4 separate regions of the Homo sapiens genome follow, and all the other regions are linked to region 1. Evidence: fine-mapped QTL for protein levels in blood plasma. A gene starts in region 1. Each other region holds a variant in brackets. All regions are shown on one strand. Distances are between the middles of the regions.

Evidence for each region. PIP is the chance, under the fine-mapping model, that this variant and not a neighbour inherited with it causes the effect. Protein levels are from antibody-based Olink assays in UK Biobank. Linkage for the fine-mapping came from a reference panel and not from the study's own genotypes, which makes the PIPs less certain.
Region 2: its variant is fine-mapped to the plasma level of the WFIKKN1 protein (UK Biobank, PIP above 0.99).
Region 3: its variant is fine-mapped to the plasma level of the WFIKKN1 protein (UK Biobank, PIP 0.97).
Region 4: its variant is fine-mapped to the plasma level of the WFIKKN1 protein (UK Biobank, PIP above 0.99).

What each region holds. Positions count from the first base shown.
Region 1 is chr16:630,502-633,180 of GRCh38, forward strand. It overlaps WFIKKN1 (WAP, follistatin/kazal, immunoglobulin, kunitz and netrin domain containing 1), which reads left to right and starts at 484. Exons shown (of 2, transcript NM_053284.3): 1 at 484-923; 2 at 2,081-2,679. The coding sequence starts at 753. RefSeq lists an enhancer at 1-577.
Region 2 is chr16:698,503-701,181 of GRCh38, forward strand. All of the region lies in intron 1 of FBXL16 (F-box and leucine rich repeat protein 16), which reads right to left. Among named protein-coding and RNA genes, the nearest start is that of FBXL16, 6.0 kb to the right of the region's middle. RefSeq lists an enhancer at 1,555-2,384 and a silencer at 2,277-2,376. The variant C/T (reference allele first, on the strand shown) is at 1,677.
Region 3 is chr16:688,821-691,499 of GRCh38, forward strand. It overlaps WDR24 (WD repeat domain 24), which reads right to left and starts at 1,578. Exons shown (of 9, transcript NM_032259.4): 1 at 340-1,578. The coding sequence starts at 820. RefSeq lists an enhancer at 1,459-2,006. The variant G/C (reference allele first, on the strand shown) is at 2,479.
Region 4 is chr16:614,389-617,067 of GRCh38, forward strand. All of the region lies in intron 1 of RAB40C (RAB40C, member RAS oncogene family), which reads left to right. It overlaps LOC124903618 (a long non-coding RNA gene), which reads right to left and starts at 1,876. Exons shown (of 2, transcript XR_007064934.1): 1 at 1-1,876. The variant C/T (reference allele first, on the strand shown) is at 1,344.

The DNA.
Region 1 (2,679 bases):
GCAGAGGAGGCCGGGCTGTGCTGGGCGTCCTGCAGACCCCTGTGCCCCTGAAACAGCCATGGAGGGGGGAAGGAACCTCGGAGCGGAGTGAAGCCCTCGGCCGCACGTGACCGTTGCCAGCCTGGACCTGGCCCGGGGGACCCAGGCTGTGGTCAGCCACGCTCTGCGGGGAGGGCCCGTGCCTGCCACCCCCATGGCATAGGAGCCTGGGGTCCAGAGGGCGCCAGGGACAAAAGCTGGGATCTGCTGGCCCTGCCCCCACCCTACTGAGGGTCGTCAAGGAGATTGATCTCAGCCCAGGGGTGGACGAAGGGGTTCAGGTTACAGGGTCCCCTCCCCTCCCCCTCTCCAGCCAGAGCCAGCCCTTCCCCGCCCCGGTGACCCTCATGGCCAGTGGCTCTGTGCTCATGGGCCTCTGGCCCCTCCCCAACCTCCTCCCCTCTGCCCTGTGCTGACCAGGGCCTGGGAGCCCCCGCACGGTTCAGACAGAGGGGCCAGGCTGAAGCTGGAGAGGAACCAGCGTCACACAGACGGCCTCTGAGAACTTGGAGACCCCGTTACCCACCCAGCAGGGGTGTCAGGACAAGCATCTGCTGCAGGCTTCAGCCTCAGGGGCAAAAGGGAGCCCCGGGGTCCTGGTGGGGGCACCGACCACAGGCCCGGAGGGTGGATGCCTGCAGGAAGCTGGGCTCTGTGGAGCCCGAGGAGGGGCTGGTGGCCACACCCCCCGGCCCCCTGGCTCGGCGGCCCTCATGCCCGCCCTACGTCCACTCCTGCCGCTCCTGCTCCTCCTCCGGCTGACCTCGGGGGCTGGCTTGCTGCCAGGGCTGGGGAGCCACCCGGGCGTGTGCCCCAACCAGCTCAGCCCCAACCTGTGGGTGGACGCCCAGAGCACCTGTGAGCGCGAGTGTAGCAGGGACCAGGTGAGTGTGGTCGGGCCGGGGTCCTGGGGCTCAGAGCAGCCAGCCTGGGCAAGACCCTGCTGGAGGTGCCACCTTCTGCCTGGGCTCCCCAGACTTCTGGGGGGTCTGGGTCTGGGCCCCTTAAGGGGCCCAGAGACACCCCCATCGTTGCCCTCATTTGTCTTAAGAATAAGAGCCCTCCCCACTCCAGCTTTCATGCTCCCCATGTGCCTCCACCCTGGGGCACCATCATCCTCGGCGACCACCCCCACCCCGTCACTGCCTCTCCTCCCACCCTCTCCTCCCACCCTCTCCTCCCATCCACTTCTCCCACCCCTTCACTGCCTCTCCTTCCATCCTCTCCTCCCACCCTCTCCTCCCATCCACTCCTCCCATCCACTTCTTCCATCCTCTTCTCCCACCCCGTCACTGCCTCTCCTTCCATCCTCTCCTATCCACTCCTCCCATCCACTTCTTCCATCCTCTTCTCCCACCCCATCACTGCCTCTCCTTCCATCCTCTCCTATCCACTCCTCCCATCCACTTTTTCCATCCTCTTCTCTCACCCCGTCATTGCCTCTCCTTCCATCCTCTCCTCCCATCCACTTCTCCCACCCCTTCACTGCCTCTCCTCCCACCCTCTCCTCCCATCCACTCCTCCCATCCACTCCTCCCATCCACTTCTTCCATCCTCTTCTCCCACCCCGTCACTGCCTCTCCTTCCATCCTCTCCTCCCACCCTCTCCTTCCATCCTCTCCTCCCACCCTCTCCTTCCATCCACTGTCCTCCCTGTCCTCCCACCCTCCTTCCATCCGGGACCAGTGCAGATGGTGGTGGGGGTGCTGCAGCCGATGTCCAGCCTTTGTCCTGGCCCGCACCACCTGCTGGGTGGTCCTGAGCACTGTACGCCCTCCTTGGGCCTCAGTTTCCTCGTCTGTACAACGTAAAGAATAACGGAACTTGCTTGTGGGTGTGAGGATTCTGGAAGGTAAGCCAGGTGGCACCTCTGGCGAGGTGGCTCCTCACACAGGATGGAAAGGACACTGAGTCCCCGGGGAGGCAGCCACAGAGCGGGGGGCTCCCTGCTACCCCACCTGGGCCTCCCCTTGCAGGGGCCAGGCCAGAGCCCCGGGGCGGGGGGCATTGGGGCTCCCACCTAAGTGTCCCCCATCCCCAGGACTGTGCGGCTGCTGAGAAGTGCTGCATCAACGTGTGTGGACTGCACAGCTGCGTGGCAGCACGCTTCCCCGGCAGCCCAGCTGCGCCGACGACAGCGGCCTCCTGCGAGGGCTTTGTGTGCCCACAGCAGGGCTCGGACTGCGACATCTGGGACGGGCAGCCCGTGTGCCGCTGCCGCGACCGCTGTGAGAAGGAGCCCAGCTTCACCTGCGCCTCGGACGGCCTCACCTACTACAACCGCTGCTATATGGACGCCGAGGCCTGCCTGCGGGGCCTGCACCTCCACATCGTGCCCTGCAAGCACGTGCTCAGCTGGCCGCCCAGCAGCCCGGGGCCGCCGGAGACCACTGCCCGCCCCACACCTGGGGCCGCGCCCGTGCCTCCTGCCCTGTACAGCAGCCCCTCCCCACAGGCGGTGCAGGTTGGGGGTACGGCCAGCCTCCACTGCGACGTCAGCGGCCGCCCGCCGCCTGCTGTGACCTGGGAGAAGCAGAGTCACCAGCGAGAGAACCTGATCATGCGCCCTGATCAGATGTATGGCAACGTGGTGGTCACCAGCATCGGGCAGCTGGTGCTCTACAACGCGCGGCCCGAAGA
Region 2 (2,679 bases), 68 kb after region 1:
GAAGGGTCTGGGGTGGCCTCTGGCCCCTCCCCTGCAGGGTGACTGCACAGCGCTCAGGAGGGGCTCTGGTGCTGACTCTGCAGCCACCCTCCACATGCACAGGAGCTTCCCTGGCTCAGAATCTACCCAAGGGGCTGGGTGCAGTGGCTGATGCCTGTAATTCTAGCACTTTGGGAGGCTGAGGTGGGTGGATTACAAGGTCAGGGGTTTGAGACCACCTGGCCAACATGGTGAAACCCCTTCTCTACTAAAAATACAAAAATTAGCCGGGCTTGGTGGCAGGCTCCTGTAATCCCAGCTACTTGGGAGGCTGAGGCAGGAGAATCACTTGAATCCAGGAGGCGGAGGTTGCAGCGAGCCGAGATCACACCACTGTACTCCAGCCTGGGGAACAGAGTGAGACTTTGTCTCAAAAAAAAAAAAAAAAAAAGAAAGAAAGAAAGAAAAAGAAAAAAAGAAAAGAAAAAGAAAAAAGAATCCATGCAAAGAAAGGGCGGGCATCTTCCCAGGGTGTGCTGTGGTGCCAGCATGGTTAGCCCTGGACACAAGCTGTCGCTTTAATCTTCTGCCCAATGAGAACGATGCTGTGATAGCTGTACCCACTGCACAGATGAGGAAACTGAGGCCAAGGCTGGGCAAACTGCCTGCCCGAGGTCATGGCCAGATAAGTGGTGAAGCCAAAGTTCGGGCAGAGCTGGCTGAGGAAGGCCATGCGGAGGTTATCTTCAGGCCAGCGACATCCACGCACAGGGTGGAGTGGGAGCAGTCCCGGGCACCCTCCTCAGGCCTCCAGTCTGTAAGTGGGTGGCAGGGGGCACTGGGCACAGCCACGGAAAGAAGCAGAGGTGGGACCCTCACTGTGCCACCATCTGCTCCACAGTTCGGATCTCCTGCCGCCCCCACCCCGACATCCGGGGAGGAGGTAGAGCCCCTGGGGTCACACGCCCTGGACTTGAAATGGGCCCCACCCTGGCTCTGTGGTCTTGGCAAGCCACTTCCCTTCTCTGAGCCTCAATTTCCTCACCTTGAAGCCTGGGGAGGTGACGGTACCTGCTCCCTTGGGGCATTGCAAAGTGAACGAGCTCAGTGCGTGGCTCATAGCAAGGTCTGGGAGAGTGATGTCTGAGCCCCACGGCCACACTCCAGGGCAAAGCAAGATGCATCTTCCCCGGTCTTAGGTGACTCCAGGACTAAGCCTGGAGCCTCATGCAGGTCCTGCCTTCCTGCCCCAAAATCTCAGAGGAGGGGCCAAAGCCTCTCCCAGCCCACCCTGCCCCCTCCTGCCACAGCCTCACTGGAAGGTCTCTTGGAGCCACCAAGGGGGTGTCTGAGAGTCTCCCACGAAGATTCCAACGCTTGGGGTGGGCCCTGCAATATGCAGACTCTCAGGAAGAGGATGGCTCACATCTTTTTGGCTGAGTGTCCCTTCTGGGGCTACAGGGCCTGGCCTGCTCCACCACAGAGAGTGGCGGGGTCTCGGACGGCACTGCAACCCCAAGGCCCGCAGCCCATTCCCCATAATCTGGTCAGGGGGGAGGGGAGGCAGGGAGGCAGGGAGGCAGTGGGAGGTCCTGCCCCGCTCTTCCCAGCAGCAGGTCCCCACACTGGCTTCCAAGCCCCAGACAGGGCCAGCCTTGCCACCGGTCCACATCTGGGGAGGGGGTGTAGACCGGAGC[C/T]GGGACCAGGGGTCTCGCCAGAACACGTGGCCCTCGTGGCTGAGAACCCAGCTTTGGGTTTAAAGTCCTTCCTGCCCTAATGGCAGGAGCCCCAGCTCCACCCTCTGTACCATCTCCCCCTCCCCAGAGTATCATTCGGGTCCTGGAAGGTGAGGCCGGGCCCTCCACAGAGGAGGCACCCACAGCCGGTGACCCCCATCATGTGCCCATGATCAGAAGGCGCGGCCTCCGGAGGCCGACATCACAACGTTTGCAAGGGCCGGCTGGGGTCGGCACATGATTCGACCTCACGGCCGCCCTTAGGGGTGGAGGGGTCGCTACCTCAGGTTTGGGGAAGGAACACGAGGCTCTGAGGAGCGAATTTGCCCCAGGTGTCCGGGGAGGCCTGGCGCGGGGCTGCCTCGGTTCCCTCCCAGAGCCGGGGAGAGGGGATATCGCAGGATGCCGGCGCCCGAGGCGGCAGCACCAGGCCCACGGGCGCCCCAGTCTAAATATCCTCCGTGCCCCTAGAGCGGGGACCCTCGCTCCCCAGACCCGGAAGCGCCGCCTTCCCCGCCAGGGACGCCTGGGCCTCCGCAGACCCCGCCGGCCGGCGCGCCACCCGCGCCAGCACCATGGACAGCGGCCGCCCCAGCCGCGCGCTCAGGGCCAGGCCCGGGCTGGCTTCCACCGCGGACGGCTGCGGGGTCGGGGCAGCCCCGCAATCCCAAATCCCGGCAGCCCCCGCTCAGCAGGGAGGGGCCCCGGGGGCGAAGAGTGGGGGAGAAGCCGGGAAGGATCCGGAGGAGGCGGCGGGGGCGGCGCCAGGGGAGGAATAATCCCGGCGCAGTGCCGATTTAGGTTGAAAACGCTCCCAGTCATGGGCCTGCACGTGGAGCGCCGGGGCTGGGGGAGGCATTCGCGGGGCTCCTTTCCCGCCCCGCTCGGGAGCTCACGTTTGCCGGCGCCCACAGTCCCGTCCCCACCTCCAGGCCTCAGGGTCGAGATGGAGAAACCAAGCCGC
Region 3 (2,679 bases), 58 kb after region 1:
GCCTCTGTAGCTCCGACATGAGGGAAGGGAGTCAGTGGCTCTCTGCTCACCACCCAGGCTGGCTGGGAGACCGCTGGGGCTCTGCCCTCCCTCACCCCACACCTAGCCTCAATTTCTGCTGGTCTCATCTCTTGCCTCTTCCCACTTGACTGCCCTGGCTCACATGCCGTCCAGCCCAACTTGCCCCATCCCTCCCCTGCCGATTCCCTTTCCCCCTGAGGAAGCCCTCTGGGAGTGATCCTGAGGGCCTCTGATGCACGGAGCCCTTTTCCGCCTGCATGGACAGGCTGGGCACCGGCAGAGACGCCCACCTGCCCTGACCTGCCTCTGTGGCCTCACCCGAGAAGGTGCTGACAGAGTCCTTTCTGCGGAGGTCAAAGCACTTCATGAAGCCATCCTGGGAGCCACTGAGCAGCACGTGGGCTTCGGTGGGGTGGAAGCAGACTTTGTTTACCGTGCGCTTGTGTTCTGTGAACAGCTGGTCCTGCTTGTTGCGGGATGGCCGGCCCAGGTTCCACGTGACCACCACGCCATTGGTGGCTGCTGTGGCCAGCAGGTTCTCATCCATCTGGTGCCAGACCACGTCAGCACAGCTCAGGTTAAGCGAAGGCTTGCGCCCCACACGCAGGTTCAGCTTTTCCACGAACTGTTCCTCCTCGATGGCATAGATCTTGAAGATGCTACGGCCTGCCACGACCACCTGGGCTGCGTCGCGGCACACACTGATGGCATTGGCGGGAGCATCCAGGTGGCAGTGCATGGTGCGGCCTGTCAGCACGCTGCCACCCAGGGCTGTGGTCACACGGGACATCTTCTCCATGGCTGCACAGGTGATGAGGTCAGGGGTCAGGAGGTCAGTGAGGTGGGCTGGCCTGGTCAGCCTGGGTGGGTCATCAGTTCAGACCTTCCACCCAGGTTGGGACCCCAGAACTGCTTGGTCCCGGGCTGGTCAGTCTTAGTGAGCCAATCCAGGGCTGTCTATCAGCCAATCAGCCTGACAGGCAAGCTCAAATTCACTGGAGTCTGTCAGTCCAGCCCATCACCCTGGCTGAGCGGTGAGGGGACTTCCTAGCTTCCCTTAGGCCTGTCAGTTTCATGTCTGACTTCCACGGAAGACTCTAGCTGGACATTCCCGGCCCAGGCCACCTCTCGGTACCCCCATCAGCCAGATCTGGGCAGTCACTAAACGCTCGGTCAGTCAATCCCAGCAGGGGAGCGAGGAGACTCCCGCCGTCCACACTGTCAGCCCTGAGGGCGGCGGGGCTCTAGGGAGGAACAAAAGAGGGGAGGGAACAGAGGGCTAGAGGGGCCCGGGGACTCAGGCGATAGACGCGGGAAGGGCCCAGAGGGACGTCAAGGACCGAGCTACTTAAGGAGCTCGAGGTGTCTGGCGGGACCGGAGGCAGGAGAGAAGCCGGCGACCCCGGAGTACAGGGTTCCTGGGAGCGGCGCAGTGGCGCGGGGGAGCGGACGCTGCGGGACGAGAACCAGAGGGCCCGGGGCAGCCCTTCTCCCCCGCGCGAACCCCAATCTTTTACTAAAAGCGCACGGTTGTCCGGAACCGCCGCGCCGGAAGCCGCTGTCTTTCCCGTCCCTCGCCGGAAGTGGTCCTCTTCTTACCCATCCCTCTCAGGAAGTGGGCACAAACTCTCGCCCGACACCACGAAAGTTCCGGGTCAGGGAGCTGCGTTGGCAGAGGCCAGGAGGGGCCCGGGATTGGGGTCTGCGGGCCGCCCTGGGCGTTGCCATTGCGCTGCGGTGCTGTGCTTGTGTGATTGGTTTATTTATTTATTTATTTAAACGGAGTCTCGCTCTGTCGCCCAGGCTGGAGTACAGTGGCGCGACCTTGGCTCATTGCAACCTCCACCTCCCAGGTTCAAGCGATTCTCCCGCCTCAGCCTCCCAAGTAGCTGGCACTACAGGCGCCCGCCACCACGCCCGGCTAATTTGGCTAATTTTGTATTTTTGGTAGACACGGGGTTTCACCGTGTTGGCCAGGCTGGTCTTAAAACTACTGAACTCAAGCGATCCTCTGGCGTCAGCCTCCTGAAGTGCTGGGAATGCAGGTGTGAGCCACCGCGCCTGGCCTGTTTTTTAAGTCTCAATTTCAGTATTTTAATGCCATCACCTATTTTAATCCCCAGGTCCATCATGACATCTGGTCATCCCTAGACAAGTTCCGAGTGCCCCCAGTCTTCCCCTCCTTCCTCACTCCTCGACCTCGGGAGCAGCCTCCCAACGGCTTTCCTGGGTCCGTCTTTCCCCTTTGATCAGAAACCCGCACAGAAGTCAGGCACCAGGTCTTCTGCCTGAGGCCTCTGGCAGCTCCCACTATGCTGTGAATGAACCCCAACTCCTGGCCTCCGCCTTCCCCTGCCCACCTCCAGCCATGGCAGCCTCCACCCCCATTCCCAGCCCACCAAGCCCTTTCCTGCCTCAGGGACATTGTACGTGCGTGCGATGCCTCCTCCACAGAGC[G/C]GACCTCCCTGACCACTGCCCTAATGGGCTTCTCCATCACTGTGGCCTCCACGGCACTTGTCACCACCCATTCGTTTGTTTACTGGTTGTTGTCGGTCACATACGAGTGTGAATTCCACCAAGGCAGGAATCACATTCTGGCTCAATCCCCACCGAATGCCCAGTGCCTGACACACCTGTTCAACCAGTTGCTCTCGTTCT
Region 4 (2,679 bases), 16 kb before region 1:
TGCCTAAACCTCGTCCCGATGGTGAACTGCCTAACTCTACCGCATCCCGATGGTGAACTGCCTAACTCTACCACATCCCGATGGTGAACTGCTAACTCTGCCGCATCCCGATGGTGAACTGCCAAACTTTACCTCGTCCCGATGGTGAACTGCCTAAACCTCGTCCCGATGGTGAACTGCCTAACTCTACCGCATCCCGATGGTGAACTGCCTAACTCTACCACATCCCGATGGTGAACTGCTAACTCTGCCGTATCCCGATGGTGAACTGCCAAACTTTACCTCGTCCCGATGGTGAACTGCCTAACTCTACCTCGTCCCAATGGTGAACTGCCTAACTCTACCACATCCTGATGGTGAACTGCTAACTCTGCCGCATCCCGACGGTGAACTGCCAAACTCTACCTCGTCCCGACGGTGAACTGCCAAACTCTACCTCGTCCCAGTGGTGAACTGCTAACTCAGCCGCATCCCGATGGTGAACTGCCAAACTTTACCTCGTCCCGATAGTGAACTGCCTAACTCTACCGCATCCTGATGAACTGCTTAATGGCGTTGTCCCTGGGTACACATTGGGTGCAGCTCCTGCAGTCATGGGCTGCTCACAGCCGTGGCCCTTTTGGCACAACCATTGTTCCTTCTTGTCTTGGAAACGAGGACCCGAGGGAGACCATCCGTCCATCCTAAAATTGGGACGTTTGGTTTTCTGTTGTTGAGTTGGAGTTATTTGTAGAGTCTAGAGATCAGTCTCTAGGAGACGTGTGATCTGCAGACATTTCCCTCCATCTCTGGGTTGCATTTTTCTGTCCATTGATGGTGTCCTTCGATGCATGAGAACAGCCTTTGATGTACATGTAGGGGTTGGTCAGGCAGAAGGACGGTGTGGGTGGAAGCGCTGATGCCTGAAGAAGGGCACCGTAGGCAGAGAGACCGCATGGCTGGCTTGCAGGGCTGGGCCCGCACGGAGAGACAGATGTGCACAGACACACACACAAGCCCACTGGGCAGGTGCACTCCGTGGGAGGGCGTCGCTTATGTTTAAAAAGTGCCCGTTTCCAAGCCCCTTGGAGAAAGTGTCATAAAAAGACAAAACGTGAATGGTGTTTCTAAGGTGGGGGAAGGGGCTGAGCCCTAAAGGTAGAAGCTTCTGGAAAGTTTCCAGAGGGCCCAGAGCCTGTTTAAGATGTCGTGCCTGCGTTAAGTGTCCAGAACTGTCTGCTCCTTTCAGTTTCTCTTGGACTGACCTTTTCCTATAAAACTGTAAGGAAATAAAAAGTAATGATGTGATGTGGGCCGGGCACGGTGGCTCACACCTGTAATCCCAGCACTTTGGGAGGCCAAGG[C/T]GGGCGAATCACCTGAGGTCAGGAATTTGTGACCAGCTTAGCCAACGTGGCAAAACCCCGTCTCTACTAAAATTATAAAAATTAGCCGGCTGTGGTGGTGGGCACCTGTAATCCCAGCTACTTGGGAGGCTGAGGCAGGAGAATCGCTTGAACCCGGGAGGTGGAGGTTGTAGTGACCCGAGATTGTGGCACTGCACTGCAGCCTGGGCGACAGAGTGAGACTCCATCTCAAAAAAGAAAAAAAGGCCGGGTGCAGTGGCTCACGCCTGTAATCCTAGCACTTTGGGAGGCTGAGGCGGGTGGATCATGAGGTCAGGAGATCGAGACCATCCTGGCTAACACGGTGAAACCCCACCTCTACTAAAAATACAAAAAATTATCCGGGCATGGTGGCGGGCGCCTGTAGTTCAGCTACTCAGCAGGCTGAGGCTAGATAATGGCGTGAACCCGGGAGACGGAGCTTGCAGTGAGCAGAGATCGCACCACTGCACTCCAGCCTGGGTGACTGAGCAAGACTCTGTCTCAAAAAAAAAAAAAAATACCAATGTGGCAGGCAGGCTGGTGGCTGTCTGAGGTCAGTCCAGAGTCCGGAGAAGCAGCATTTTATTTATTTATTTATTTATTTATTTATTTATTGAGTACTGTCACCCAGGCAGGAGTGCAGTGACATGATCTCGGCTCACTGCAACCTCCACCTCCCAGCTTCAAGTGATTCTCCTGCCTCAGCCTCCCGAGTAGCTGGGATTAAAGGTGCCCACCACCACACCTGGCTAATTTTTTGTATTTTTAGTAGAGACGGGGTTTCACTGTGTTGGTCAGGCTGCTCTCAAACTCCCGACCTCATGATCCGCCCGCCTCGGCCTCCCAAAGTGCTGGGATTACAGGCGTGAGCCACCGCGCCCGGCCAGAAGCAGCATTTTTAAACTTGTTTGGCCCTCCCTAACACCAACCTTGGCAGTTCCTGGGCTGCAGTAAGCCGAGACTTGGAAATACATTCGCCTTGGAGAATTCAACTTCAAAATGCATACGAAGTAGGTCAGGGTGGAAATAAAGGCACTGCCCTTTCTCCAGGCACGCTGGAGTCCACGCCCTGCCTTTGCCCAATGCCCTCTGAGGGAGAGGCCCTGTGCCTTGCACCCAGCGCGGGCCACAGGCGGAGGCCCCATTCCAGGCAAGCCGTGCCCATGGAGAGGCTGGCCTGCTAGGCTGTGGGGCCCGATGGCCTGACACTGTATGGACCACGCTCCTGCCCTGCCCTGCCCCGCCCTGCCCGTGGCCCGTGTGCAGAAGTGGGCAGGCCTGGGTTGCTGGGCCAGAGCCCCGAGATTTCCCCCTG